Linked DNA regions of Homo sapiens: region 1 is linked to region 2. Evidence: fine-mapped expression QTL. A gene starts in region 2. The other region holds a variant in brackets. All regions are shown on one strand. Distances are between the middles of the regions.

What was found. PIP is the estimated chance that this variant, and not a neighbour inherited with it, causes the effect. A credible set is the group of variants that fine-mapping cannot tell apart.
Region 1: its variant is the best candidate, but not a certain one, in a credible set for the expression of FHIP1A-DT in whole blood (INTERVAL, PIP 0.56).

What each region holds. Positions count from the first base shown.
Region 1 is chr4:151,500,464-151,516,669 of GRCh38, forward strand. All of the region lies in intron 3 of FHIP1A (FHF complex subunit HOOK interacting protein 1A), which reads left to right. Among named protein-coding and RNA genes, the nearest start is that of FHIP1A, 99 kb to the left of the region's middle. The variant G/A (reference allele first, on the strand shown) is at 10,155.
Region 2 is chr4:151,400,429-151,416,634 of GRCh38, forward strand. It overlaps FHIP1A-DT (FHIP1A divergent transcript), which reads right to left and starts at 8,464. Exons shown (of 3, transcript NR_183963.1): 1 at 6,755-8,464; 2 at 5,095-5,180; 3 at 648-991. It overlaps FHIP1A (FHF complex subunit HOOK interacting protein 1A), which reads left to right and starts at 8,748. Exons shown (of 14, transcript NM_001109977.3): 1 at 8,748-9,037. RefSeq lists enhancers at 7,178-7,487, 7,319-8,018, 8,019-8,718 and silencers at 7,945-8,417, 8,538-8,707.

The sequences.
Region 1 (16,206 bases), 100 kb after region 2:
TGGACAGCCTGCCTGGGTTTGAATCCTGACCCCTGCCCCATGTCACTTGGGGCAACTTACTTATCTTCTGCCTGCCTCAGTTTCTTCAGTGATAAAGTTGGGAAAATAATAGTCTACATACCTCATAGGGTTGTTGTGAGGACTATATTTATTTATATGTCAAGTAATTTAAGCAGTGCAGGCCACATTGTAACTGCTATTGAAGCCTAAGGTACTATTAATGGTATTCATTGTGGTCTTAGAGTTAAGGCCCTAATCTAGCCAAAGATATTTTTAGATCATTCCAGGAAACATGTTCAGACATTTCCAGGAAAAAAGCCTAATCCTAATTCTTTGAAATACCTTAAATCAGAAAGATACATGAAATTGTTGGAGGTGTTAAATTATATATTTTTCAGATAGGTTACTCACCACGGACACACCAGCATATACTTTTATGTTTAAAGTATTTTTAGCTGACAAAAATTGCCGATGCACTGAAAAGTACTGCTGTGTTGGTTAAAATGGCACTCGTTTAAATTCAGGTTTCACTGTACGAATATTGATTTTCTGAAAAGCATTGGAGTGAAGCTCCCTTTCGGATATAGATTGGGCATAGATAACAAAATACTCTGTTTGAATTTTGGTGATATCAGCAGTAATAAAGGCAATATAAACACCCACATTTAGGTTATTTTATAAAATAAACTTGCCATATATGGAGGGGGCAATTTGGGACATTTGGATCAACAACTTTTTGGTTGTGAATCATGCTGCTATGAACATTCACAAACAAGTATTTGCTTGAGTACCTGTCTTCAGTTCTTTCAGATATTTAGCTAGTCCTGAAATTGCTGGGTTATGTGGTAATTCTATATTTAGCTTTTTGAGGAACCACCAGACTTTTTCACAATGCCTACACTATTTTAATATTTAATACATTATTTAATAGAAACACCGATGTACAAGTGTTTCTATTTCTCCACATCCTCACTAACACTTGTTATTTTCTGTTTTCTTTAATTTAAAATTTTAATTTTTAAATTATGGCCATTGTAGTGGATATAAAGTGTTATCTCATGGTTTTCATTTGTATTTCTTTGATAATCAAAGAAATTTTTTTGTTTTCTGTTTTCTTTAATTTAAAATTTTAATTTTTAAATTATGGCCATTGTAGTGGATATAAAGTGTTATCTCATGGTTTTCATTTGTATTTCTTTGATAATCAAAGATTTTGAACATTTTTTCATGTTTTTTATGTTGGTCATTTGTATATCTACTGTGGGGAAATGTCTATTCAAGGTCCTTTGCTTATTTTTTAATTGAATTGTTGGTCATTTTGTTGTTGAGTTGTAAGAGTTTTTTTTTTTTTTTAAATATATTCTGGATACTAAACCTTTATTAGAAAACCTGGTTCTCAACAAAAACTACAAATCCTACAAAGAAACACAAAAGTATGGCCATTCATAGGAAAAACAGAAATGGACAGAAACTATCTATGAGAAAGTCCAAATATTAGACTTACTAGACAAAGACTTTAAATTATGTATGCTGAGAGAGCTGAAAGAAACCATGGATAAAGAACTAAAGGGGCCAGGCACAATGGCTCATGCCTGTAATCCCAGCACTTTGGTAGGTCAATGTGGGAGAATCACTTGAGCCCAGGAATTTGAGACCAGTCTGGGCAACATAGGGAGAATCTGTCTCTACAAAAGAAAAAAAAAAAAAAAAGAAAAGAAAAAATTAGCCAGGTAGTCTCAACTGCTAGTGAGGCTGAGGTGGGAGGATTGCTTGAGCCTAGAAGATCAAGGCTGCAGTGAGCTGTGATCGTACCACTGTGCTCTAGCCTGAGTGATAGAACAAGACCCCATCTCAAAAAACAAACAAACAAACAAACAAACAAACAAACAAACTAAAGGAAATCAGGAGAACAATTCATGACCAAATAGGTAATATCAGTTTAAAAAAATAGAAATTATAAAGTGAAACCATGTAGAAATTCAGGAGCTGAAAGATACAAGAACTGAAGTGAAAAATTCAGTAGAGGGGTTCAAAAGAAGATTTGAGCAGGTGGAAGAAAGAATTAGGAAACTTTTAGATAGGGCAACAGGAATCACCCAATCTGAGGAGTAGAAAGCAAAAAGAAGGAAGAAAAATGAGCAGAGCCTAAGGGACCTGTGGGATACCATCAAACCTAAAACATGCATTATGGGAATCCTAAAAGGAGAAGAGAAAGGGGCAATGTGCTAGACATTGAGTACAGAAGGAGAGTTTCATTTGAGGCCATTCAGTTTATTATTAATATTCTTGAACAATATACAATTTTGTGTTCAATTCATAGCAGGCAAGGACAACTAAAAACACTCTACTGGCTGCAGACCAGAGAATGCTAGAGAGGTGTCATTTCTCTGTCTTCACGCAGTCCTTACATTGTTGGTGTTGGCCCATATTTTCAATACAGCTAAAGAAATTTAATGACCGTTATACTGAAACATCTGGTTTACTACATTAACTTCATATTCTTCTTCTGAAATTGGAATGGGCCCATTATGTTTCTCCACATTTGCGCCTTATTTGTCTTTGAGGAAACAAATAAAAGTTTCACCAAAATTCTGTAACCAAATTACAGGTTCAGTTGCTCACCACTTGCGGAGTCTAATTAACAAGAGAGAGGTCTAGTATAAAGAAAGTGACTTTTTATTCCAAAGGTAGGTTAGGGGAAGAAGTACTCCTACCTTATGGATACTGCTTTGCTTTGGGAGCACAAAGCAGGGGCTTTTAAAGGGAGAACTTGGCATGAATGGCATACAGGGGAGGGAGTGAACAGGTGAGGGTCCATGTGACTCACTTTGGTACCTTATCTACCAGATGGTTGAGCTGGCGCCATCATGGGCAGAACTAGTTTTTAAAGTGGTCTTTGTCTCAGGATATTCTCCATGTAGGAAAGAGTTTTGTAGTGGGCATACTTTAGGTTGTAAATTGACTGTCATCTCTTGAGGCAATCTCCTGGTGGGAGAGGTTTTTGGCTCTGGAGCTTCCAAGCACACAGTTAGATAAGCTTGATCTGTAGACAGTGTCTGGTGAAGGGAAGATAGAGGTTCTAATTGCATTTCTAAAGAGCCAAGTAGAAAGTAGGGAACAGGGGGAAAGGAGGAAAGAGAAAAGAAGAGAAAAAAATTAAAAAAAACCCAACTCATTCTCTTTCTCTTAGAAAAATGGGAATACTTGGTTACAATCCCACAAATGAAAAAAATGCTGAATTCTTCTGGCATGCTTATTCCTTTCAGGTTCCATTTAGTTCATTGCTTCTCCCCAAGTATATTAGGACATACTAGGTTCCAAAGGCCTACTTTATTGTAACAACACCAGACTTTCTCTATAGCATAGACTCCCTGTGGGCAGATCTTAACCTCAAATCCTTTGTTCTTAGATCCTCTTTCAATTCTGTTCCCATCCTTAGGAATCAGAATTCCACTCAGATTTACTTTGAATGCAAAACAATAGGAATGTCCCCTGGGTGCATGAATCCTAACTGCACAAAACCTAAAGGTAAATGTTCTCCAACTTGTTATATGGTCATATTTGTACAAACAATAGCCCAAAGAGAAAACTTCCTTACCAAATTAGCCTTACCAACAGTAACTCGAGATCAACTATTCTAAACCTATTCCCTTTAGTCTGGTGATTCTCCTCAATTACCTTTTAAAATATATATCTCCCTACATTTAACTGGAATAGCATCTCTCAGGGAAAATGTTTGCAACTCACTTATCCTCAAACATTTATCAGAAACAAGCTACAATGCCTGTACAGTTGGCTACTGATCATTTCCACACTGAGATTTTTTTTCCTCTGGCTGTGATTTAGTAATACCAGCTTTGGAAAAATTCTAGGTTAGACTTAACATGAGTATCTCCTTCAGCATGGAACACTGGGCCCTCAGTGGTTTATTAAGCCAGTTATTTAAGTGAATAGAAAAGAAAATCAGGACTGTATCCCCAGATACTTCCTCAGCCAGTATATTACTCAGGATGTTTGAAGTTATACATGATAGAAACCCAACTCAAACCTGTTTAAGCAGAACAAGAAATTTATTAGCTCATCTAGCTGGGAAAAAATTTTATGTTATGTTATGTTATGTTATGTTATGTTATGTTATGTTATGTCATGTTATGTTATGTCATGTTATGTTATTTTGAGACGGAGTCTTGTTCTGTCGCCCAGGCAGAAGTGCAGTGGTGCGATCTCGGCTCACTGCAACCTCTGCCTCCTGGGTTCCAGCAATTCACTTGCTTCAGCCTCCCAGATAGCTGGGATTACAGGCATGTGTCACCATGCCTAATTTTTGTATTTTTAGGAGAGAAGGGGTTTCACCACGTTGGCCAGGCTGGTCTCAAACTGCTGCCTGCAGGTGATCCACGCACCTCGGCCTCCCAACGTGCTAGGATTATAGGAGGGAGCCGCCGCGCCCAGCCTGGGAAGAAATTTTAACTCATAAAATAGAAGAAAACTGTCAGGACTCTACTATCAGAGAAATTCATTTGCTCTTGCCCATTACCCCCCGACCCAGTCTCTGTTTGTCTCTGTGTCTCCTTGCTTCCCTTTCTTCTACTGTATGTATGTCCTCCATGTGACACAGGAAGTAAGCTCCAGGCTATCAATTGTCCTGTACTTCTATCCTAAAAACGTAAATGTCTTACCCACTAGATTGTATCACAAAAGTTCTAGGGAGGGTTCTTACTTGTCTAATGAGATCATTTGCTTCTCCCTGAACACATCACTGTAGCCTGGAAAATGGGGGTCTCTGATTAGCTAGGCCTGGGTCACATTGCCTACTTTCGTGATGATGAATAGAAGATAGGAATTGGGGAGGCTATAGACAAACATGATTATTATCCTTACAAAACTACATGAAATAAGAAAGGAGTCCCCAAATGGAAGGGGCTGCTATTACCAAATGGCAATGAGGGAAAAACATTCAGGACACCCATAATCATTACCTATTACAGTCTATCATCGACCCCTTCCATGCAAAGGTGAAGTGGCCATTTATTCCAGTGTCATTGCTAGACTTCTTAACATTTTTCAGAAGGGGACAGCAATCTGCCACTCAGATGACCACTGTGAAGCATATGAATATATTCTTGATCGGTAATTTTGAATAATTGAACGCTGAATGTTCACAAAAAGAGAAAAATCTTTAATTCTCTGCTGTTGAGTCTTTATCAAAAGCTTAGTTTTAATAAATAACATTCAAGTGGGCATGGTGTGAGCCTGTAGTCCCACCTACTCAGGAGGCTGAGAAGAAAGGATCACTTGATACCAGGAGTTCAAGACCAGCCTTGGCAACATAGTGAAAATTTTTTAAAAATTGAAGGAAGATTACACAAAAGATTTTCTGTCCATCTATAACTACTGGTTACTTTCCAACAGCCAGTTTACCCTTCTTTTTTTGTTGAATGATATTGTGGGAAATTGGATAAAGGAATTTTTTTCTTGAGATAGGGTCTTGCTCTGTCACCCAAGCTGGAGTACAGTGACATGATCAGGGCTCACTGGAACTTCGAACTCCTGAGCTCAAGTGATCCTCCCACCTCAGCCTCCTGAGTAGCTGAGTCTACAGCACATGCCACCATGCATGGCTAATTTTTTCATTTTTGTAGAGGTGGGTGTCTCACTGCGTTGCCCAGGCTGGCCTCTAACATTCCCCCTGTCTTGGCCTCTCCAAGTGCTAGTATTACAGGTGTGAGCCACTGTGCCTGGCCTAAATGGGGGAATGAAATTGACCTCGGTGGTGAGTAGGAAGAGAAGGGCCATTTTTGGAACAGGATAGTTAATAAAATATTTACAATGACTGCAAGGCTACACTGAGTTTTCTATGAACTTTGTTAAGGAAGTATTTTCACTAAATGAAAAGAAGTATATTGCAGTATATTGTCTTAGTCTATTTATGTTGCTATAAAGAAATACCTGAGGCCGAGTTATTTATAAAGAAATGAGGTTGGTTTGGCTCATGGTTCTGTAGGCTGTAAAATAAGCATGGCACCAGCATCTGCTTCTGGTGAGGGCCTTGGGAAACCTCTACTCATTGCGGAAGGTGAAGAGAAGCTGCTGTATGTGGAGGTCACATGGTAAGAGAGCAGAAGCAAGAGAGAGAGGGGAGGGAGTACCGGGCTTTTTTTAACAGTCAGTTCTTGTGGGAACTAAGAGTGAGAAGTTATTCACTCCTAAGAAAATGGCACCAAGCCCTTCATCAAGGATCCACCCTCATGATCCAAGCATCCCCCACCAGGCCGCATCTCCAATATTGGGAATCAAATTTCAACATGAGACTTGGAGGGGACACATATCTAAACTATATCACATGCCTTCAAAGAGTGCTGAATTAACATAAAAATATGAAACCAGTTATGTAATATGGGAAGAGATTTAGAATTGTAATTATTTTTTAAATTTATTTACAAACAACTTTGCTTCCTGGGACAGAGGACAGGTCTTCCCATTTCAACAAAAAATAAATCAAATATGACATGCCATTAGCACATAAGGCAAAAATGAGACTTCCATAATCTTGAACACAAGGTACTTGTTTCTAGTTGAGATTTCCTACCCAGAATGGCACTGCTTCATTAAGTGATTCATTCCACTACCTCTATTTATGCTGTGAAAGCCTTTCCCCTGCCCCCCCACTTTTTTTTTGAGATATGGTCTCACTCTGTCACCCAGGACATAGTGCAGTGGCATGACCACAGCTCACTGCAGCCTTGATCTCCCAGGCTCAAGTGATCCTCCCAGCTCAGCCTCCCAAGTATCAGGGACCACAGGCTTGCACCACCACACCTGGCTAATTTTTAAATTTTTTGTAGTGATGGGGTCTCGCTATATTGCCCAGGCTAGTCTCCAACCCCTGGGCTCAAACAGTCCTCCTGCCTTGGCCTCCCAAAGTGCTAGGATTACAATAAGGAATGAGTGAGGAAAAAATGAGAAAATAAGAAAAAATGTGAAAAGTTAGAACATGTTATCTATTATTTTTAACCTAGATTATTTATTTTTTCCCTCTTTCCATTTAATATGTGTATTTATTAGTATTTGATAGTTAAGGATTATCTAGTGGATTTTAATTTTCATATCATTATACATTGCCAAGTGCTGTGGCAGATGATCTTAGATGCATATTGTATGTTATAGGATATGCTTTCTTGGCTATTAAGTGAACAAGGGCATCTATAATGTTTTCGATATTTATTTTCAAAATTGTAATGACCCATAGAAAAATCCCTACTGCTCTCCTCATCCCCCACCTCCTTATGGTTTAAACACGTTGAGAACCACAGTTCTGTCCTCTGAGAGAGAGATGGAGATATTTACAGGGATAGAAGGGATCAGGAGCTGAAAAGAATGGTAAAGGCTATTGCTTACCAGTGAGATTGTGTTATATATTATTTAAACAGGGGAGGTAAATGTTTCTGATCCTGGAAGCTTGAGTAGTACTGAACTTAGAGTCTCTTTCTTGACGCATTTTGAATCTGAAGGATTCTGAAGAAGATAGAATATAGAATGAAAACTGAAGAGGCTATTTTGAGGTAAAGACTGGAGGAAGTGGTACAGGAAGACCAAGAAATCAGGCAAGGCCTTATCCAGCAGGTTTATAAAAGGTTTGGAAGAGGCACAGAGATGGAACTAGGTAGATAAAGCAGGAGTTACAAAACAGGATTGCAGAATTTTATGTGGCTCTGTGCTTTTGAGTAACTCAATTTTTATTTAATCTTAGAATATCTCAGAGAGATGCAATATTTACAAATGGAAAACAACCCCTTTTGGAACTTAAGATCTGGGAAAGAACAAAGCAGGCACAATAATTTGGGGAGAAAGATTCGTGGGTCCTGCCTTCATGTGCAGCCTAGTAATGTTAGGTGTACTGAGGTCTGTCCACTGGCCAGGGTTGTCTCCTTTGGTTGCTGGTTCTGGAATTGTTAGTCTCTTGCCTTGAGCTGGGATCTGGCCCATCTAGAAATTTCCCATCAGGAATACGTGGCTGTAGGTGGTCCAGGGCTGAAGCTATAGGTAAATGATGAGTGGTGAGAAAGAACAGGCTGCCTTCTTCTCGCCCTGTAGGTGAACAGTAGCACACCCTCTATCCCTAACCATTGTTTAAACCAAAAAATTCAGCAGTATACTTGCATAGAAAGGCTCTCAGAATCAAAGTTTGACACTTTTACTCTTGGAAGGCTTAGAATCATGGGCTTACCAAAAATAGGTGACTTGGACTTGGAACCCACTGAGTCCTGGAACCAGGTAATGCTGGTTTCTTGGGATTGACTTGACCCTGTCAGAGACAGAGCGGAGCAAACAGCCTGCTCAAAGATTGGAAAAGTCCATTTCCCTACCAGTCAGCATTTACATACTCTCTTTCTCCCCAGCCAGCCCTCCCTAAAAACTACCCACAATGTTGAAAGAGCACTCCTCTTAAAACTTCTGTCCCCTCCCAAAAAATCTAGGAAACCCTTAAAACAACAGTTTTTCCTCCTTTTGGGTTTGGATGAAATTCCTCTCTTTGAGCAGGTGTCAGACATTCTTAAGCAGTGCTACAGTGCTAGGATGGGGCTTCCCATGTACAAATGAATACTAAATAAATATTACTCGAGGAGAGTAAAGGAGCTGGGAAGCAAACTGACTTTTTCAGTCACTGGCATGACTGGAAGCATTTATTAAGTATTTTTTTTGTTTGTTTGTTTTTTTTGAGACAGTCTCACTCTGTCGCCCAGGCTGGAGTGCAGTGGCGTGATCTCGGCTCATCACAACCTCCGCCTCCTGGGTTCACGCCATTCTCCTGCCTCAGCCTCCCAAGTAGCTGGGACTACAGGCACCCGCCACCACACCTGGTTAATTTTTTTTTGTATTTTTAGTAGAGACGGAGTTTCATCACATTAGCCAGGATGGTCTCGATCTCCTGACCTCGTGATCCGCCCGCCTCAGCCTCCCAAAGTGCTGGGATTACAGGCGTGAGCCACCTTGCCTGGCCAAGTTCTTTACCTTCCTGGGGTAGTGAGCCAGGGATGGTACAGACTACATTAGCAGATATGACTTCTGCCCTTGGAGACCGAGGGCACCATTTGTGAGCTCATTTTTGTGTGAAATGTACCTCGGTTGTCATTCTCAGCTGACACATAAGTAAATAGTGGTCGGGGCAGGGAATAATGGTGACCAATAGAAGGCTAGCTTTCAGGTAGACTGCACCTCAGACGCCTCCTTTGTTCATTCCACATTCCTTTCCCGTTGAGCTGCTCAAAGTACGTTAAAAATACTGTCTCTATGTTTGTGTGTGTGTGTGTGTGTGTGTGTGTGTAGGTATATATACATTTAAAGAAATTAATTTCCCCCCACGATATATCTCTCTGGAATATTATGATCTGGATTGGAAACATCAGCTTGGTCAAGGAATGATTTATCTTTCTTTGTTGGGCAGGAACCTTTTGGGAGGCCCAATAATTTTCCTGCAATCTAAAGTATCTTTAAAACATGGCAGGTCCTGGACAGGGTTGGAAACTGGAAGGAGAGATTGCTGTTCCTACTCTGGCCCTTTCCTTTTCCATGTGCCTGCAAACTTCCTGCTGCTTTTAGCTCCCTCACTTTACACATGGCCTGGGACCCTCCCTGCCAGCATTTTTTTTTTCTTTTTTTGGAGTCATGGTCTCACTGTCATCCAGGCTGGAGTGCAGTGGTGCAGTCATGGCTCACTACAGACTCAAGCTCCTGGGTTCAGGTGATCCTTCCACCTCAGCTTCCTGAGTAGCTGGTACCACAGATGCATGCCACTGTGCCCACTAATATTTTTTTCAATTTTTTGTAGAGATGGGGGTCTTACTGTGTTGCCCAGGCTGGTCTCAAACTCCTGGCCTCAAGCTGTCCTCCCACCTTGGCCTCTCAAAGTGCTGGGATTTATAAGCATGAGCTACCATGCCTGGCCCTATCAGCATTTTAAAAGAGATTTTTTTATTTTGAAATAATTTTAGATTTACAGAAAAGTTGCAAAAATAGTATGGAGAGTTCTTGTAGACCCTTCACCCAGCTTCCCTTAATGTTAACCTCTTACTTAACCTGTTTGCAGTTTGATGTGTGATTTCTACTGAGTGCATTTTTTGAACCTCATCTGTCCTAGGGATCTTACTATAGTC[G/A]GGATTCAGCGTTGACATGGTTCCTTTCTCTTGCCTTCAAGGAGCTAGCAATCTAGCAGTGGGTTTTAGTGACTTAATGTTTTATCTTCTCACTTTTACATTTAAAAATGTTTTTCTGGTAACAGCAGTAAGGAATCTAAAGGTAACAGTTTCTAGTGATCAAATTTCAGCTACAGTAGAATCTGGATGAAGGAGACATTTTTGAATTGAGAGTCTTTGCTGGGACTCTTGAAATGGCTGTTTATTTATTGATTTTTCTATTCATTTAGCATTTATTGACTGTCCCATATGTGACAGATACCATACTAATCTCTAGAGATAACTAAGTTGAATTTCAAGATGTAGCTCTTGCCTTTAAAGACTTTATGATCTTTTGGGGGAAGTATACAATTGCAAAACAATATGGAAATGCTGTGGTAGAGTTACTTACAGGCTACTCTGGAAAACATGGAAGGAGACCCTGAATTCCAGCCTGATATGACAAATCCCCATTAGGCTGCTCCAACTAGACAGAGAGCTCTTTGGAAACTGTGAAATAATATGTATTATTCAATCTAAAATTATAATTAAGATGGCCTAGGTAAATTCACGGGACTATCAGTCCTTTGGTATTTTACAAATGGATAATATATTATTCGTCCATGGGGTAGAGTTAAAATATTCATGAAATGCAATCCCGAGGTGGAGCCAAGATGGCCGAATAGGAACCGCTCCGGTCTACAGCTCCTAGTGTGAGCGACGCAGAAGACGGGCGATTTCTGCATTTCCATCTGAGGTACCGGGTTCATCTCACTAGGGAGTGCCAGACAGTGGGCGCAGGACAGTGGGTGCAGCGCACCGTGCGCGAGCCGAAGCAGGGCAAGGCACTGCCTCACTCAGGAAGCGCAAGGGGTCAGGGAGTTCCCTTTCCTAGTCAAAGAAAGGGGTGACAGACGGCACCTGGAAAATCGGGTCACTCCCACCCTAATACTGCGCTTTTCCCATGGGCTTAAAAAACGGCGCACCAGGAGATTATATCCCGCACATGGCTCGGAGAGTCCTACACCCACAGAGTCTCGCTGATTGCTAGCACAGCAGTCTGAGATCAAACTGCAAGGTGTCAGTGAGGCTGGGGGAGGGGCGCCCGCCATTGCCCAGGCTTGCTTAGGTAAATAAAGCAGGCAGGAAGCTTGAACTGGGTGGAGCCCACCACAGCTCAAGGAGGCCTGCCTGCCTCTGTAGGCTCCGCCTCTGGGGGCAGGGCACAGACAAACAAAAAGACAGCAGTAACCTCTGCAGGCTTAAATGTCCTTGTCTGACAGCTTTGAAGAGAGCAGTGGTTCTCCCAGCACGCAGCTGGAGATCTGAGAATGGGCAGACTGCCTCCTCAAGTGGGTCCCTGACCCCTGACCCCCGAGCAGCCTAACTGGGAGGCACCCCCTAGTAGGGGCAGACTGACACCTCACACGGCCGGGTACTCCTCTGAGACAAAACTTCCAGAGGAACGATCAGACAGCAGCATTCGTGGATCACGAAAATCCGCTCTTCTGCAGCCACCACTGCTGGTACCCAGGCAAACAGGGTCTGGAGTGGACCTCTAGCAAACTCCAACAGACCTGCAGCTGAGGGTCCTGTCTGTTAGAAGGAAAACTAACAAACAGAAAGGACATCCACACCAAAAACCCATCTGTACATCACCATCATCAAAGACCAAAAGTAGATAAAACCACAAAGATGGGGAAAAAACAGAGCGGAAAAAACAGAGCAGAAAAAGTGGAAACTCTAAAAAGCAGAGCGCCGCTCCTCCTCCAAAGGAACACAGCTCCTCACCAGCAACGGAACAAAGCTGGACGGAGAATGACTTTGACGAGTTGAGAGAAGAAGGCTTCAGATGATCAAACTACTCCGAGCTACAGGAGGAAATTCAAACCAAAGGCAAAGAAGTTGAAAACTTTGAAAAAAATTTAGACGACTGTATAACTGGAATAACCAATACAGAGAAGTGCTTAAAGGAGCTGATGGAGCTGAAAGCCAAGGCTCGAGAACTACGTGAAGAATGCAGAAGCCTCAGGAGCCGATGCGATCAACTGGAAGAAAGGGTATCAGTGATGGAAGATGAAATGAATGAAATGAAGTGAGAAGGGAAGTTTAGAGAAAAAAGAATAAAAAGAAATGAACAAAGCCTCCAAGAAATATGGGACTATGTGAAAAGACCAAGTCTACCGCTGATTGGTGTACCTGAAAGTGATGGGGAGAATGGAACCAAGTTGGAAAACACTGTGCAGGATATTATCCAGGAGAGCTTTCCCAATCTAGCAAGGCAGGCCAACATTCAAATTCAGGAAATACAGAGAACGCCACAAAGATACTCCTCGAGAAAAGCAACTCCAAGACACATAATTGTCAGATTCACCAAAGTTGAAATGAAGGAAAAAATGTTAAGGGCAGCCAGAGAGAAAGGTCAGGTTACCCTCAAAGGGAAGCCCATCAGACTAACAGCGGATCTCTCGGCAGAAACTCTACAAGCCAGAAGAGAGTGGGGGCCAATATTCAACATTCTTAAAGAAAAGAATTTTCAACCCAGAATTTCATATCCAGCCAAACTAAGCTTCATAAGTGAAGGAGAAATAAAGTCCTTTACAGACAAGCAAATGCTGAGAGATTTTGTCACCACCAGGCTTGCCCTAAAAGAGCTCCTGAAGGAAGCACTAAACATGTAAAGGAACAATCAGTACCAGCCACTGCAAAATCATGCCAAATTGTAAAGACCATCGAGGCTAGGAAGAAACTGCATCAACTAATGAGCAAAATAACCAACTAACATCATAATGACAGGATCAAATTCACATATAACTATATTAACTTTAAATGTAAATGGACTAAATGCTCCAATTAGAAGACACAGACTGGCAAATTGGATAAAGAGTCAAGACCCATCAGTGTGTTGTATTCAGGAAACCCATCTCATGTGCAGAGACACACATAGGCTCAAAATAAAAGGATGGAGGAAGATCTACCAAGCCAATGGAAAACAAAAAAAGGCAGGGGTTGCAATCCTAGTCTCTGATAAAACAGACTTTAAACCAACAAAGGGCAAAAGAGAGAAAGAAGGCCATGACATAATGGTAAAGGGATCAATTCAACAAGAAGAGCTAACTATCCTAAATATATATGCACCCAATACAGGAGCACCCAGATTCATAAAGCAAGTCCTGAGTGACCTACAAAGAGACTTAGACTCCCACACAATAATAATGGGAGACTTTAACACCCCACTGTCAACATTAGACAGATCAACGAGACAGAAAGTTAACAAGGATACCCAGGAATTGAACTCAGCTCTGCACCAAGCGGACCTAATAGACATCTACAGAACTCTCCACCCCAAATCAACAGAATATACATTTTTTTCAGCACCACACCACACATATTCCAAAATTGACCACATAGTTGGAAGTAAAGCTCTCCTCAGCAAATGTAAAAGATCAGACATTGTAACAAACTGTCTCTCAGACCACAGTGCAATCAAATTAGAACTCAGGATTAAGAAACTCACTCAAAACCAATCAACTACATGGAAACTGAACAACTTGCTCCTGAATGACTACTGGGTACATAACGAAATGAAGGCAGAAATAAAGATGTTCTTTGAAACCAATGAGAACAAAGACACAGCATACCAGAATCTCTGGGACACATTCAAAGCAGTGTGTAGAGGGAAATTTATAGCACTAAATGCCCACAAGAGAAAGCAGGAAAGATCCAAAATTGACACCCTAACATCACAATTAAAAGAACTAGAGAAGCAAGAGCAAACACATTCAAAAGCTAGCAGAAGGCAAGAAATAACTAAAATCAGAGCAGAACTGAAGGAAATAGAGACACAAAAAACCCTTCAAAAAATTAATGAATCCAGGAGCTGGTTTTTTGAAAGGATCAACAAAATTGATAGACCGCTAGCAAGACTAATAAAGAAGAAAAGAGAGAAGAATCAAATAGACACAATAAAAAATGGTAAAGGGCATATCACCACCGATCCCACTGAAATACAAACTACTATCAGAGAATACTACAAACACCTCTATGCAAATAAACTAGAAAATCTAGAAGAAATGGATAAATTCCTCGACACATACATCCTCCGAAGACTAAACCAGGAAGAAGTTGAATCTCTGAATAGACCAATAACAGGCTCTGAAATTATGGCAATAATCAATAGCTTACCAACCAAAAAGAGTCCAGGACCAGATGGATTCACAGCCGAATTCTACCAGAGGTACAAGGAGGAACTGGTATCATTCCTTCTGAAAATATTCCAATCAATAGAAAAAGAGGGAATCCTCCCTAACTCATTTTATGAGGCCAGCATCAACCTGATACCAAAGCCAGGCAGAGACACAACCAAAAAAGAGAATTTTAGACCAATATCCTTGATGAACATTGATGCAAAAATCCTCAATAAAATACTGGCAAACTGAATCCAGCAGCACATCAAAAAGCTTATCCACCATGATCAAGTGGGCTTCATCCCTGGGATGCAAGACTGGTTCAATATATGCAAATCAATAAATGTAATCCAACATATAAACAGAACCAAAGACAAAAACCACATGATTATCTCAATAGATGCAGAAAAGGCCTTTGACAAAATTCAACAACCTTCATGCTAAAAACTCTCAATAAATTAGGTATTGATGGGACATATCTCAAAATAATAAGAGCTATCTATGACAAACCCACAGCCAATATCATACTGAATGGGCAAAAACTGGAAGCATTCCCTTTGAAAAGTGGCACAAGACAGGGATGCCCTCTCTCACCACTCCTATTCAAAATAGTGTTGGAAGTTCTGGCCAGGGCAATTAGGCAGGAGAAGGAAATAAAGGGTATTCAATTAGGAAAAGAGGAAGTCAAATTATCCCTGTTTGCAGATGACATGATTGTATATCTAGAAAACCCCATTGTTTCAGCCCTAAATCTCCTTAAGCTGATAGCAACTTCAGCAAAGTCTCAGGATACAAAATCAATGTACAAAAATCACAAGCATTCTTATACACCAATAACAGACAGAGAGCCAAATCATGAGTGAACTCCCATTCACAATTGCTTCAAAGAGAATAAAATACCTAGGAATCCAACTTACAAGGGATGTGAAGGACCTCTTCAAGGAGAACTACAAACCACTGCTCAAGGAAATAAAAGAGGATACAAACAAATGGAAGAACATTCCATACTCATGGGTAGGAAGAATCAATATCGTGAAAATGGCCATACTGCCCAAGGTAATTTATAGATTCAGTGCCATCCCCATCAAGCTACCAATGACTTTCTTCACAGAATTGGAAAAAACTACTTTAAAGTTCATATGGCACCAAAAAAAGAGCCCACATCGCCAAGTCAATCCTAGGCCAAAAGAACAAAGCTGGAGGCATCACACTACCTGACTTCAAACTATACTACAAGGCTACAGTAACCAAAACAGCATGGTACTGGTACCAAAACAGAGATGTAGATCAATGGAAGAGAACAGAGCCCTCAGAAATAACGCCGCATGTCTACAACTGTTTGATCTTTGACAAACCTGACAAAAACAAGCAATGGGGAAAGGATTCCCTATTTAATAAATGGTGCTGGGAAAACTGGCTAGCCATATGTAGAAAGCTGAAACTGGATCCCTTCCTTACACCTTATACAAAAATTAATTCAAGATGGATTAAAGACTTAAACGTTAGACCTAAAACCATAAAAACCCTAGAAGAAAACCTAGGCATTACCATTCAGGACATAGGCATGGGCAAGGACTTCATGTCTAAAACACCAAAAGCAATGGCAGCAAAAGCCAAAATTGACAAATGGGATCTAATTAAACTCAAGAGCTTCTGCACAGCAAAAGAAACTACCATCAGAGTGAACAGGCAACCTACAAAATGGGATAAAATTTTTGCAACCTACTCATCTGACAAAGGGCTAATATCCAGAATCTACAATGAACTCAAACAAATTTACAAGAAAAAAACAAACAACCCCATCAAAAAGTGGGCAAAGGACAGGAACAGACACTTACCAAAAGAAG
Region 2 (16,206 bases):
TAGTTTTGAACTCCTGACCTCAAGTGATCCACCCGCTTCAGCCTCCCAAAATGCTAGATTATAGGTGTGAGCCATGGCGCCTGGCCACTTCATTACTTTTTATGGCCAAATAATATTCCATTATATGGGTATACCACATTTTGTTTAACCATTCATCAGTTGTTGGACATCTGGATTATTTTCACCCTTTAGATATTGTGGCTAATGATGCTATGAATATTTATGTACAAGTTTTTGTGTGGACATATGTTTTGTCTTGCATATATGCCTATGAGTGCAATTGCTGGGTCATATAGTAACTCTATGTTTAATTATTTCAGGAACTATCAGACTATTTTCCAAAGTAGCTACACCATTTTAATTTCCCCTTCTTACTGTTTTTTTAATACTTAAGTAATTCTACTTTCCTGTCATGCATTTTAAAAGATTTAAAAAAAAACCCTTCTCTCTGTCACCAAACAACCATCAATTACATGGGTCTATTTGGCTTGTGGAAATAAGCTGAGCTGTACACTTATAAGTAGTAATGGATAACTAATTCATGGAGTATTTACCCAATGAAATACTATATACAGCAAATAATAAACTACCCATAAGCACATCAACATCAACAATATGGATGAATCTTACAAATAAGAACCAGAGAGACAGATACAAAAGAGTATCTATTCTATTATTCTAGTTATATAAAGTACAAAAATAGACAAGACAAATCTATGCAGTTAGAAGTCAGGATTAACTTTGAGGGGAAATAGTGGTTGGAAGGGGACACAAGGAAGCTTCCAGATTCTGTTTCCTGATCTGGGTGCTGATTACATGGGTTTATTCAGGTTGTCGAAATAAACTGAACTATATACTTATAATACGTGCACTTGTCTTTATGTGTATTAAAAGTTTCAAAAAGAAGAAAAATGTATTCAACTTTGGGTATGCAGTATCCAGAGTTTTCCCTGCATCTTATTGCCTGATGATTCCTACAATACAAGTTGCCCTGGAAAAACAGAAAAAATAGGCAAAGTGTTCAACATAATTTATAAGGCCAATATAATGTTGATACCTAGTCACATAAAGAAAAAAACTCCTATTTTACTTATGAACATAGATGCAAAATAATGCTAAGTAAAATGTTAGGTAACAGAGTCTAATACCCTACTAAAAATATATTACAATCAAATAGGGTTAATATAAATAACGTAAATTTGGTTCAATAAAGGAAGATCTACAATAAAAATCATCACATCAAGGGACATAAACAGGAAAAATAATCACATGATCATCTCAGACACAGAAAAATCATTTTATAAAGTTCAATACCAGTTAATGATTTAAAAATCTCTTAGAAATTTCACAAGAAAATAAAGGAAGGTTTTCAACCTAACAGAGGACATCAACTAAAAATCTACAGCAAACATTCTATTTAACAGAAACTTCAGTGTGGTGCTCTCCTGTAATCCCAGCTACCCTGGAAGCTGAGGTGGGAGGATTGCTTGAGGCCAGTTAGAGGCTGTAGTGAGCTATGACCGCACCTAAGAATAGCCACTACACTCTAGCCACTACGCAGCCAGAACCCATCCCTAAAAAAAAAATTTAAAAACAAAACCAAAAACTTCAGATGCATATTATTTGGAATGTGTTTGCTATACTTAAAAGAAACTGAAATAAAAGTAGTATAAACACATAAGGATTGTTTTTTATCTCAGCAGGAAGTTCAGAGGTCGGCAATACAGCTATGGTACACGACTCCACAAAGCTCAGTGTTCTGGAGGCCCCTTTTGGCTTTCTGCACCATCATCTCATACATTTAACTTTTGCTTTCATCATCTTAAAATGGCTTCTGCTTCTCCAGGTAACCAATGTCCAAGCAGGAAGAAGTGGATGGAAAGAAGGGCAAAGATTCATGGAACCAAGCCAGCTGGGCTTTCTGAAAGTACATGCAAGGACATCCTCTTACATTCCATTGGCTTGGACTGTGTCATATAACTACCTGTAGTTGCAAAGGTGGTTGCATTTTGCTGCTATAAAAAAGCGGGGAGGGCGTTCTGGTAGAAAGATAAAAATAGAGACTTGAAATTGAATAGGCAACTAGTAGTGTCTACCTTGTATTCCCTTTAGGTTTGATAACAACACAATGATCCCCACTGATATGGTTTGGCTCTGTGTCCCCATCCAAATCTCTTCTCAAATTGTAATCCCCATGTATCAAGGGAGGGACCTGGTGGGAGGTGACTGGATCACGGGGGCGGTTTCACCCATGCTGTTTTCCTGGTAGTGAGTGAGTTCTCACATTATCTGATGCTCACACTCTCATTCTCCTGCTGCCTCGTGAAGAAGGTGCTTGCTTCCCCTTCGCCTTCTACCATGATTGTAAGTTTTCTGAGGCTTCCTCAGCCATGTGGAACTGTAAGTCAATTAAACCCCTTTCCTTTATACATCACTCAGTCTCAGGTAGTATCTTTATAGCAGTGTGAGAACGGACTAATACACCCACTATGACCACTACCTTGCAAAACAGTACTTGATGTCTTGGCCATTGAAAACAGACAAAAATAAATGTAACATACAGCTCTGTCAAGAGTTCTGCTACAAACTGCAGAAAACATATGCAGCTGATTTAAAAGAAAATAACTTATTATAATATTAAGTAGCTTATTGAATCTATAAAGTTGTCCACAGAGGTTATGTAAACTTGACAGCTATATAACTAGGAACAACACCCAAATCATATTATAGATCTACTCCAATGGACATGCCATTATTACCACTATTTGGCAAAAATGCTGCAGCATGTACTGCCAACTCCACCAGACTGAGCACTGGGTACTATTGTGGGAATCTCTGCCACTACCCTCTCTGCTAACATATTTTTATTAATTGTACTTGTTAGAAAAAAGAATTTCTTGGCCAGGCACAGTGGCTCATGCCTGTAATCCCAGCACTTTGGGAGGCCGAGGTGGGCGGATCACAAGGTCAGGAGATCGAGACCATCCTGGCTAACACGGTGAAACCCCATCTCTACTAAAAATACACAAAATTAGCTGGGTGTGGTGGTGGGAGCCTGTAGTCCCAGCTACTTGGGAGGCTGAGGCAGGAGAATGGCGTGAACCCAGGAGGTAGAGCTTGCAGTGAGCCGAGATCGTGCCACTGCACTCCAGCCTGGGTGACAGAGCGAGATTCCATCTCAAAAAAAAAAAAAGAAAAAAGAATTTCTTGACAGCATGATTACTATTATAACAGAATACACATTGTTCATTTTTGAGCTCTTTTTTTAAGAGAAGCAACTACAGAAGATAATTTAAATTTAGATTTAATCTGACTACAGATGATAATGTCTTCATGTACTTTTTACTTTCAATTCCAAGGTATCTGGGACAACTTCCCTATGTTGCATTTTAGCTTCTGCTTTTCTTAAACACAGATGATGCACTTTGTCCACTTCCTCATAGGAGTGTTAAGATCTATAGTCCTATGAGCTCTGTGAAAGAAGAATTTGTGTATGTATGTGTGTGTGTGTGAATGATGAAATACTTCTCTCCTTTGTTCATGTAATCTTGAATATCTAGTATTTAACACGTTTAATAATTTGAAAAAAATGTAATTTCAAATATAATTACATTTTAAAATGGAAATAAAGGTGGTAAGAAAAAGAGGGAGAAGTCTTGACTGGCTTCTACAATAAAGAAATATAATTTCAGTGCTTTAAAGTACTATAATAACAGAGCTGAAGAGTATAAAAAATGAATAAAGAGGGGCCAGGCATGGTGGCTCATGCCTGTAATCCCAGCGCTTTGGGAGGCCGAGGCAGGCCGATCACAAGGTCAGGAGTTTAAGACCAGCCTGGTCAACATGGTGAAGCCCCATCTCTACTAAAAATACAACAATTAGCTGGGCATGATGGTGGGCGCCTGCAATCCCAGCTACTCGGGATTGCAATTTCAAGGCAGGAGAATCACTTGAAACTGGAAGGCGGAGGTTGCAGTGAGCCGAGATTGCACCACTGCACTCTAGCCTGGACCAAAGAGTGAAACTCCGTCTCAAACAAAACAAAACAAAACAAAAAGAATAAAATGAAATACATTAATAAAAAACATGATTTAGAAACGGCTACTGTTACTAATATATGCATTTACAGCCAATATACTTATTTTTAACTTTTGCTTAATTAACTTCTAAAGCAGTAGGTTCAAATTAATTGCTGTTTAACTGGATGATGCTGTTAAAAAACGCACTGCTCCATATTGGAATTCTTATATGTTGTCAGTGGGAGCATAAATTGGTATAATCACTTTGGAAAATTGTTTGGCAGTATCAACTAAATCTCATTGTATATACAGCCTATCATCCAGCAATTCCACTCCTGAGAGAAAGTGATACCTTCCTATGGCAGAAAACTTGGAAGTAGAGAAAAGCACAGAGAATAAAAATAAACTGTCATCCTAGTACTGAGATAATCATTATTATTATTATGATTTTTTTGAGATGGAGTTTCACTCTTGTTGCCTAGGCTGAAGTGCAATGGTGCAATCTTGGCTCACTGCAACCTCCGCCTCCCAGGTTCAAGTGATTCTCTTGCTTCAGACTCACGAGTGGCTGGGATTACAGGCGCCTGCCAACACGCCCAGCTAATTGTTGTATTTTTAGTAGAGACGGGGTTTCACCTTGTTGGTCAGGCTGGTCTCGAACTCCTGACCTCAGGTGATCCACCTGCCTCGGCCTCCCAAAGTTCTGGGATTACAGGCATAAGCTACCATGCCTGGCTGAGATAATCATTATTAATATTTGTAAAGAGAATCTTACTTTACACACTTACTTTTATAGTAGACTTACTTTATACAATATTATAAATATATTTCCATGTAATAGATATTTTCCAACTTTTTTTTTTTTTAAGAAGAGACAGGGTCTCACTCTGTTGCCCAGGTGGGCGTGCAGTGGCACTCAAAGCTCACTGCAACCTCGACCTCCTGGGCTCAATTGATCCTTCTGCCTCAGCCTCCTAAGCAGTTGGGACTATAGGCCCGTACCACCACATCTGCTTATCCTTTATTTTTATTTATCTATTTTAATTTATAAAGAAAAGAGTTTTAATTGGCTTACAGTTCTGCAAGCTGTACAAGCATGGCTCCAGCATCTGCTTCTGGGTGAGGGCCTCGGGAAGCTTCCACATGAGCTACCATGCCTGTCTTCATGGTGGAAGACAAAGAGAGAGCAGACAGTGTCATATGGCAAGAATGGGAGAAGGAGACAGCCCCTTTACCTTTAGCAAGACTTATTTCCTCAAAAGAATGAGTCTGTTTCACTCCCAGAGGGCATAATGGATATGAATGAAATTCATATTTGTAGAGAGGGAACTAACATTCTTAAGTGTCTATCATGTATTAGGCATTGTGTTATACACTTCACTATGCTAATTTGTCATCCTAAAACAACCTTAACAAAGTAGGTATTACTTTCATTTTATAAGTTGAAGAAACTGAAGACCATTCAAATTATGCGCCTCTCCTTTCCTGCCTTGATTTTACCCTAACCTCCTTTTGAAGTCTTCTCCAACTTTGTTATAGCAGTTCCGTCCTTACGCTGCCCACATTCAAATTATGCGCCTCTCCTTCCTGCCTTGATTTTACCCTAACCTCCTTTTGAAGTCTTCTCCAACTTTGTTATAGCAGTTCCATCCTTATGCTGCCCAGGCCAAAAGCCTCAGAGTCCTTCTCATCTCCTTCCTTTATACCCCACATCCAATGTGAGGAAACCATCAGCTTATCATCTCTACCACTATTTCTCTGGTCCACATCTCTATCTTCTTGTCCCTCAATTATTATTATTATCTTTTTGTGAGATGGAGTCTCGCTCTGTCGCCCAGGCTGGAGTGCAGTGGTGCAATCTCGGCTCACTGCAACCTCTACTCACTGCAACCTCCGCCTCCTGAGTTCAAGTGATTCTCCTGCCTTAGCCTCCTGAGTAGCTGGGACTACAGGTGCGTGCCACCACACCTGGCTAATTTTTTGTATTTTTAGTAGAGGCGGGGTTTCACCATGTTGGCCAGGATGGTCTTGATCTCCTGACCTTGTGACCCACCCACCTTGGCCTCCCAAAGTGCTGGAATTACAGGCATGAGCCACCGCACCCGGCTGACCCTAGATTATTTTAGTAGCCTCTTAACCAGTCTCTGTGCTTCTACCCTTACACCCTACTGTTTATTCTTAACCCAGCAGTCAAAGTGATCCAATTACAATGTCAGAAAGTGTCACTTTTCTACACAAAATCCTCCAATGGCTCCAACCAACTCACTCAGAGTAAAAGCCTTACCTGATCTGCATCACCCCCACCTTTCACTTCTTTGACTTCATCTTCTCCATTCTTTCATGGTGCCTTCTGGATTGCTCCTAGTACACTTAGGCATACTCCTGCCTCAGGGCCTTTACATTTGCTATGCTTTCTGCCTGGGAAGTTGTCTGCTCAGATATCCCTAACCTCCCTCAAGTCGTTCCTCAAATGTTACCTCCTCCAGAAGCTTTCCTTGATCATCACCCCTCTCCGAACATAGCACCCCTCATACTTTCTATGTACCCTCTCTGCTTAATTTTTATCCACAGCATTTCTTTCTTTCTTTCAAAACAGGGTCTCACTCTGTCACCCAGGCTGGAATGCAGTGGGCTCAAGTGATCCTCCCACCTCAGCCTCCTGGATAGCTAGGACTACAGGTGCACGCCACCATGCCTGGCTAATTTTTAAACTTTTTGTAGATAGGGGGTCTTACTATGTTGCCCAGGTTGGGTCTCCAACTTCTGGCCTCAAGTGATCCTCCTCCTTTGGCCTCCCAAACTGCGGGATTACAGGCATGAGACAGCACTCCTAGCCTCTCCATAGCATTTCTAATCATACAGCAGTCCATATATTGTCCTTATACATTTACCATCTGTCTTTCCCACGTGGAAGAGGTAAGCTCCACGAGGGCTGGAATTGTTGTTTGTGCTCTCTGCTGTGTCCTCAACCCCTAGAAGCGTGCCTAGCATGCAAAAGGCACTCAGTATATATTTGTTGAGTAAATGAATGCTTCCCCCACCTTCCAACTGTTAGAGCAGGCCAAGGGGACCTGTTGTGCAGAACTTCACAGCTTTCTACTCTGAGCTCTATCTTCCTTGTTCTTCCCCAGCTTTTACTTAGGAGCCACTTCTTGACTGAGCTTGTCACAGGTGAAAGGCTGATGAATCTGGAGAGATACTTGTGGCAAGTACCCGGTGTTCCTGCAGTCATCCACAAGCGCAGCAGTGGTGGTAGACAGCTAGAGAAGAAAGTGTAAAGTTTGCATCCTCCAATTATCACGGTTGCAAGACAGAACTTGAAACTAGATACACCTGATTTTGGTTATCTCTGGATGCCATTCACCGAGAATGAAGGGAAGAAGATACTTCCTCCAAAGGAGAATCTGATGAGGCGCCAGCAGGCTGCTGCTGCGGTGGAAACTGCCACATCCGCTTTTGCAAACTGGTGTGGCCCCAGCTGCTTGGACTGAGGCTCAACGCAGGTTTCAGCCACTTCAACCACAGGGCTACGAACATGCCAAGAGAGCCACTAACCAAGTTTCTCATTCCTCCTCTGAGATTTAAAGTCCATCACTTCGCGACTCAAACACGCAAGAGGCGTGGGAGACGGAGGAATGGGGAAGCGAGGCGGCGCTGCCCACCTTGGCAATGGCACAGCCGCGGTCTCTGATGCAAAGGCAGGCGGCCGCGCAGGGCCGGGCCTGGGTGGGAAGGCTGGGCTCTGGGAAGGATGTCGGGGCACCCGGCAGTGCCCAAAGCCACCATCTCAAGCGTGATAGTGGGAAAATGGATGCTGCACCTGCTCTCTCATCTTGCGGGGAATCGTGATTTGGGGAAGTTTCACCTTTGTTGCAGAACTGCCCACATTAGAGCCTTCATTTCTTGGGAAGGGGTTGGCGGGAGTTGCCAGTGAAATGTGTGACACACACACGCGCCACATACTCCCCAAACCCACAGACGACTCCAGTAACGCTCTAGTTACCCTTAAAAAGTAAAACAGAACAAATCAGCAGGCCCCCTCCCTCCATCCTGGCACTTCATTAATGTCGGCCAAGGCCACATTTCCCCTGCCCACTGCAGGGAGTCTGTCAGGAGAACAACAGGCGAACGTTTGCCTCACTTGACTCAGCTCTCTTGGGGCGGTATCAGCATTTTAAAATTCACACCTAAAGGAAGGAGTCAGCAAAGGAAAGCAGAGCTGGGCCGGGGCGCCGGTGGCCGCCGTCAAACCTTTGGGAAGCAAGAAATCCGAAACGCCCGTGACGTGCGGCGTTGTCCGACTCCTTCCACTAGGCAGAACCCGAGAGACGAGCCTTTGGCGGGACGGTGAACGATTGTGCTGTGTACGGCGGTGTGCGTGCGTGAGTAAAGAGTGTGTAGCTCCGGCCAAACGCTAGCCCCCAAGGGCGCGAGTGCTACACTGCGCCCAGCTCAAGTTTCTGTGGAAACTTTCCCTCAGAGGCTCCTCCTCCTTCACCTTGGAAACCGGCGCGGGCCGTGCGGCGCGGCACTGCCTAAGTCCCCGGCGCACCTGGCGGCGGCGTGTCCCAGCGGCAGAGGCGGGGCCGGCGGCGGCGGGGGCGGGGCCGGGGCGCGCTCCCCGAGGCCTCCAGGCAGGTTGGGCCCCACCCCCGCCCCTGCCCCGCCCCGGCCCCCGCCCCCGCCCCCGCCCCCCCCGCGCTCACTAGGGAGAGGCTGGGGGGAGGCAGTGACCCACGCGCCTCAGCCCGCGGCTGACGCACCTTCGAAAAGTTGCGCTCCGACCTTCTCACGACCTACATTCTTCCCGGGCACTCCTGAGTTTGAGCCGGGCCTGGAGGACCTGGGCCAAGACTTTCGAGCGGCGGCCGCCCGAGGTGCGAGGAGCCAGCCCGGCTTTCCTCACTGGGTCCCGCGCAGGCGTCCCCGGGACCGCAGAGCAAACTTTCTGGACTATCTGAGGACACTTGTCCAGCGAGCCCCACTGCTCGGGGAGGAGGAGCCACGGCCGGGGACAGGTAGGTGCTGTGCTGGCCGGAGATTTGCGCTTGAGGGATTCTTTTATTTTAGAGGGTTGAAGGAGGAGGGAGAGTCGAAATGTCCCTTCTCTGCATCCGCCAACTGGGCAGGGGGTGCGGGCATTGGGCTGAGGGAGCAGGCATTGGGCTGGGGGCCGGCTGGGGATGTTCCAAACGAGGTCGCTGCGTCGGGCGGGGGCGCAGGGGGGAGGAGGTGACTTCTAGGGTTTCGGGCTCCGGGACGGGGCGTAACGCGGTGACTGACCCTGGGAGAGAGAGAGCCAGCTTGTTTTGACGAAGGAATATGTCATTAGGGCCCTCCATCCCATTCCTTGGTCCCAGGGTCCTCTGGGAGGCACAGGAAAAGGCAAAGAGATGTGGAGTTCAGGTTTCCCCTGTAAATCAACTTGCTTACACAGGAGACAGAGGCGGTGCCCCTCTGAGGTTTGCAGCCCTTTCCTGGTGTAAGGACTTACTGGTTAGGTAGCTGTTGCTCAATTTCGTAAATTCTGTGATGAAACTGCGTTCAAGTCGTGGTTATTATTGATAGTGTGTATGTGTTTGTGTTTCCTCTGGCTCAACAAAGGTCCCTTGTTAACTCCGCTTCTGCTAGGGAGTGGGAAGAACTACCTTGGTGTCTTATTTCAGGCCTGGTCAGAGCGAGGTGTTGGTGCAGGCGGCGGTAGCCTTGTTGGCTTGGGACTTTGGGAATCACATGAGCAGGTCTAGTGAATTAGTGTCCCAGCCTCCTGGACCCACCCATTCACAGCAGATCTAGCTTCCACTATTCAGCAGATGCTGCAGCCCCAGCTATCCAGGGACAGGGAAACCCCCCTGAAGGGAAAGAGCCAAATGTTGAGAAGGAGAGACAGCTTTCAGGAGGAGGAGTAAACAATGCCTAACAATTGTTGCTTCCCTATAGATTGGGCTTGCTCCCTTGGCTTCTCTGGAAGGGCTGTGCTATCAAATTCATCTCATTAGGAAGTCAGCTGCTCCCTGCTAATAGTCATAGCAGCCCTGATGAAATTATATAGGTCATTGAAAAATAATTCCTGCTTAATTACCTTTATCCTGTTGATTAATGAGAGGGAAGATTTCCTCTCCTTAATGTATTATGCCTGCTTGTCAGGGTCACCTGCCTGACCTCAAGTTCACTTGTACACCTGGCACTAGGCAGGATGCTGTCCCCGAAGCTGTCCACATGTAGTGAACCACAGCTGAAGTCCACGTTTGGAGAACTTCAAAGGTCTTCTTTGGACCGAAATTGAGCAGGATATTTAGTCCATAAATTTACTCTTTAATACAGTATACTTGTTGGCTTTAGGTAACTTTTCGCATAATTAAAGGTTGATATCTTTTTAGTTCCAGTTAATCCCTTTCCGCAGAGCTCATAAGAATTATGTCCATGCCTGTCTTGAAATAAATTAAGTTTGGGGTCCTATTTATCATTTGTCCTGTAGGACAAGGAACAGGATTAAACTGTGTAGGGTGGCTGGAAAGGGGCAGAGAAACTGGACATCACTGAAGTGGATTCAGAGAGTGATTGAGAGTGGTCTAAAAATTTAGGTCCAACTGCCCAGCTACCTTTTTTCTTGGCTCTCATATAAAGACATTGTGTAGGACTTTTAATGGAGGACTTGAAGACTAGAAATAAAAGGAGTGTTTTATTTTTACATAGTCAGAGTGATGCATTGCTGGACAGTTCTGTACTCTGCCTCCCAAGATTGGTTCAAAATACTTTCTCTGCTAAGTTCTTTCTTTAATAGGAACTTGATAGATAATGACTGCAAACAAGAAGCAGATGTACAAATATATTATGTAGAGATATGGAGGTAAAATGAGAAAAAACAAGAATTGCCTCTGAGGAGTGAAATTATATATATATTTTTTTTTTTTTAAAGTTAGGGTCTCTCTCTCTCTCTGGCCCAGGCTAGAGTTCAGTGGCATGATCTCGGCTCACTGCAGCCTTGATCTCCTGGGCTCAGGCAGTCCTCCCACCTTAGCCTCCTGAGTAGCTGGGACCACAGGTTCATGCCATCACACTCTGTTAATTTTTTGTATTTTCATACAGACAGGGTTTTGCCACGTTGCCCAGGCTGCCCTTGAGCTCCTGGACTCAAGCAATCCGCCTGCCTTGGTCTCCCAAAATTCTGGGATTACAGGTGTGAGCCACCATGCCTGGCCTCTTGTATTACTTTCATAAAGAAAATTTAATAAGGAACCTCCTTTCTCCATGCAAATATAAAGCAAAATTGCTTTATTTAATCTGTTTAGACACTTGATCTTTATTCTGTGTACATCTGTCTTCTAGGGTGATACGTAGGCCCAGTGAAGATCTGGATCAGATTCTGCCATTGAAACACAATTTAGATCTACTTCATCCTTATTTTTAGCAACTTCCAACCCTTGGTTCTTAGCCCAGGTAGGGGAACAGTGCTCAAGAGTGACAAGAAACTCCAGGAACTTCATTTATAGGGATCTCTTAATGAAAACAATAACAGAAGTGAACAGTTCTGTAGTGCTTTATGTTTCACAGAGTGCTTTCATGTACCATGTTTGTGCCTTGTGATTTAACCATTTTGTAGTAGATGCCATTGTGTTTAGATTACACAGGAGGAAAGCAGATGAGGTTCAGAGATAATAAGGGACTTTTTTGAGACGGAGTTTCACTCTTGTTGCCCAGGCTGGAGTGCAATGGTGTGATCTCGGCTCACTGCAACCTCTGCCTCCCAGTTCCAGCGATTCTCCTACCTCAGCCTCCTGAGTAGCTGGGATTACAGGTGCCCACCACCATGCTCAGCTAATTTTTTTTGTATTTTTAGTAGAGATGGGGTTTCGCCATGTTGGCCAGGGTGGTCTCAAACTCCTGACCTCAGGTGACCCACCCACCTCGGCCTCCCAAAGTGCTGGGATTACAGGCGTGAGCCACTGTGTTCGGCCAATAATAAGGGACTTTTATGGGCATACTCTTTGCTCCTGTATATTGTGGACTGAGACCTGAATTCAGGATTTCTGATTTACAGCCCATGCTTTCACTTTTTTCCTTGTTACATTTTGTGAAGTGGTTGGATGTGAAATGGGCTTTTCTTTTTCTTTCTTTCTTTCTTTCTTTCCTTTCTTTCCTTCCTTCCTTCCTTCCTTCCTTCCTCCCTCCCTCCCTCCCTCCCTCCCTCCCTCCCTGCCTCCCTTCTTTCTTTCTTTCTCTCTCTCTCTCTTTCTTTCTTTTTTTTTTTTTTTTGATGGAGTTTTGCTCTTGTTGCCTAGGCTGGAGTGCAATGGCGTGATCTCAGCTCACCGCAACCTCTGCCTCCCGGGTTCAAGGGATTCTCCTGCCTCAGCCTCCCGAGTAGCTAGGATTACAGGCAAGCACCACCACGCCTGGCTAATTTTGTATTTTAAGTAGAGATGGGGTTCCTCCATGTTGGTCAGGCTGGTCTCGAACTCCTGACCTCAGGTGATCCACTTGCCTTGGCCTCCCAAAGTGCTGGGATTATAGACGTGAGCCACCGTGCCTGGCCCTCTTATTTCTTATTAACCAAAATATGAGCTCATGTGGAGACAGGATGACAGGACTATATATGAATATGTACATATATGTGTATGTGTAAGTGTGTGTACACATGTAACATATAGTCTGTATAGCCTTGGCATCTCAACAGTATAGCTGTGCAATAAAATTGAAGTAACCTCCATTAAATTTGGGAGGGAGATCTTGGGAAGTGGCGTAGGTGAATAAATACCTTGATAGATTGAATAAGGAATTTTGGCAATGTCTAAAATTGAAAAACTCTGTAAATAGCAGTATAAGTGCATGATTTACAAATATAGAAGTAATTACCAGAAGAAATAGCTAAAAGAGTTGAAGGACCTTCTTTCGGAGAATGAAACTCAGGGGTGAGGAGGAGCCAGACAGGAATCTGCTGTTTTTGGCTATGTACCTTATAATATTAGATAATATTTTATACTGTGTACGTATGTATTACTTTATTTTACTTTATTTATTTTTTGAGGCAGAGTCTCGCTCTGTTGCCCAGGCTGGAGTGCGGTGGCACAATCTTAGCTCACTGCAACCTTCGCCTCTTGGGTTCAAGCCATTCTCCTGCCTCAACCTCCCGAGTAGCTGGGACTATAGGCATGCACCAACATGCTTGGCTAATTTTTGTATTTTTAGTGGAGATAGGGTTTCACCATGTTGGCCAGGCTGGTCTCGAATTCCTGGCCTCAAGTGATCCGCCTGCCTCAGTCTCCCAAAGTGCTGGGATTACAGACATGAGCCACCGCGCCTGGCCTCATATGTATTACTTAAAAAAAAAAGCCCTTTGGCAAGGATGGAGCAAAGGTCTTTTGTCAGAATTTTAGAGCCAAAATTATGTATTCCCAGTTCTTCCATTTTACAGGTGAGGAAATTGAGGTGTAGGAGTTTAAATGTTATGCTCTTGGTCACATAACTGTAGAGACAAACCTCTCCCAGACAAGGTCAACTGTAGAGACAAACCTTTCCCAGGCAGGTAGAAAGTTTTACCTTGCTAGTGATTCTTCAGTTTCCTTTCTAGGCAGTTCTTTTGCCTTCTATCTAGTTAGTGTTTGTTTGTTTTTTTTTTTTGAGACGGAGTCTCACTCTGTCGCCCAGGCTGGAGTGCAGTGGTGCAATCTCGGCTCACTGCAACCTCCGCCTTCCAGGTCCAAGTGATTCTCTTGCCTTAGCCTCCCGAGTAGCTGGGACTACAGGCATGCGCCACCATGCCCGGCTAAGTTTTGTATTTTTTTAGTAGAGATGGGGTTTCACCATGTTGGCCAGGCTGGTCTCAAACTCCTGACCTTGGGTGATCTGCCCGCCTCGGCCTCCCAAAGGGCTGGGATTACAGGCTTGAGCCACCGCGTCTGGCCTCTATCTAGTTTTTACAATCTTTGAACAGGTTACTGGACTATAGATTCAAAAGTATTTTTATCTAATTCCTTAAATTTCCATTTTGAAAATGCTTCAAATGGTTTTTCGAGTCTGCAGAATCTGTACCCTTTTGTTGTTAATTCTGTAATTACTTTTACTTAGAAGTAGAGATGTGCGGTTTGTCTGCAATGTTTAGAAGCTGGCATTCTTGCCCAGTTGAATTTGATAAATACTGGAATTTGGACTAAACTTTTATTCTCAGAAGGCATTACTAAGGGGAGATGCTAAGGGGACTTTTCCAGTATCTATGTGTTTTGCTTAATTTTGAAGTTCTGAGAGTGAGGATACTACTGCCTTCTAAAAGACAGGTAGAGACAAATGATATTTTAGAGCTATTATAAAAAGTTAACACCCTTAAGTTTATCCTTTTCTTTATAAATATGATTTTCTCCTACTTCCTTTCCAATTATATCACTAACTTAAATGAGAGTTAATTTTCTTATTACATACATGATACATATTATTCAAATTCTAAACAATATAGAAATATATAATGTTAAAAGTTAAAGTACACTGCAATGTTATATTCTGGATAAACTGCTATAAATAGATATATTTCCCTTCATTTTTCCCTCTATTTAAAAATGTTTATTATTAACGTGGTTGTTAATAACTACTGGGGTAATCCTATGCAACTTTCAACTTGGTTTTTATTTTTAACTCAATAATATACCTTGAAAATGTTTTTATGACCATACATGCACATCATTCTCATTTTGTTTTTTTTACTGGCTGTATAGTAATGCATTGAATAGATATAGTTTTTTTGGTTTTTTTTTTTGTTTTTTTTTGAGATGGAGTCTTGCTCTGTCACCCAGGCTGGAGTGCAGTGGTGCAATGTCAGCTCACTGCAACCTCTCCCTCCCAGGTTCGAGCAATTCTCCTGCCTCAGCCTCCTGAGTAGCTAGGACTACAGGTGTGCATCACCATGTCTGGCTAATTCTTGTATTTTTAGGAGAGCCAGGGTTTGGCCAGGTTGGTCTCAAACTCCTGACCTCAGGTGATCCACCTGCCTTGACCTCCCAAAGTGCTGGGATTACAGGCGTGAGCCACCATGCCTGGCCCTATAACATGGTTTATTTAAACAGCCTTTTGTTGGGAATTTGGATTGTTTTCCATTTTTCTATATTAAGAACAGTGCTTCAGAGAACATCCTTGAAAGTGTTATCATTGTACACTTGTGTTTTCTGTAGGAAAGGTTTGTGAGTCACTGTTATGAAAATGTTAAATTTCTTTTATTTACATTTCCTCTAGTAGTGTCCCTTCATTTTTAGTTATATGAACATATTCTTTCTTTCTGAATGCACAAGACTGAAGACAGAAATTATTAATAGATGACCAGCCACTGAAATAAGAGGTCATAACAGCAAAAGGTGCTGAGCTTTTAGGTAAGGTTCACCTCATTTCCTCACATTTCAGGTTCTTTTTGGTTTTAATGTTTTCCCCAAGAGAAGATAGTAATTGGTAACAGCTATAAAAATACTCTGCAGCTGTTGGTTGAGCTGCTAATTAGCTTTTATGGAGCATAGTGTTTTTTTTTTTTTAACATTTTCCTAAGAACATTATTTTAGGACATGCCATTAAGGAGTTCAGAAAATCCACTAGGTTTTGCAGAATGCAGAGTGTATTTTAGCTCTTCTCCTTAAATTGTTAAAGTTTACCTCTGTTGAAATATTAGTCATGGGTCCATTTTAGGATCTTTTGGCTTGTAGAAAGTTCTAGGAACTGATTTCCCTCTGTGTGTGGAAAATGTGAAATAAGATACTTTGGCTAAATTTCATGACTCAGGCTCATTGAGGTGGGAACATTTCAGGAATTCCTGTGGCAAAGTTTTTACTGAATGTCTAAAAGAGTTGATTAATATTTTTATTTAGTCCAAGCTTTTTTTCATAACCATTTCATTAGAGGAGTGTGTCTTATTCCTCAAAATGAATATCTTCTATTTTGTTTGTGTTCATGGAACTTTTATTTGGATTCCATTCATTTTAGGTTGATTTTCTTTATAATATACTAGAATGAGTATAGAAAAATATGTTTACAAATGTAATTTCTATACACACATACATACCCCCTATATTTATATATGCACATATGTATTGTACACATTTGTGTATTTATGCCTAAGTATATAGTGATATAAGGAATGTTTTAAAAGTATGATCTTCTTCAGGTCATTTAATAGAAAACTTTGTACATCCTCAAAATAAGGATGATGTCTCCA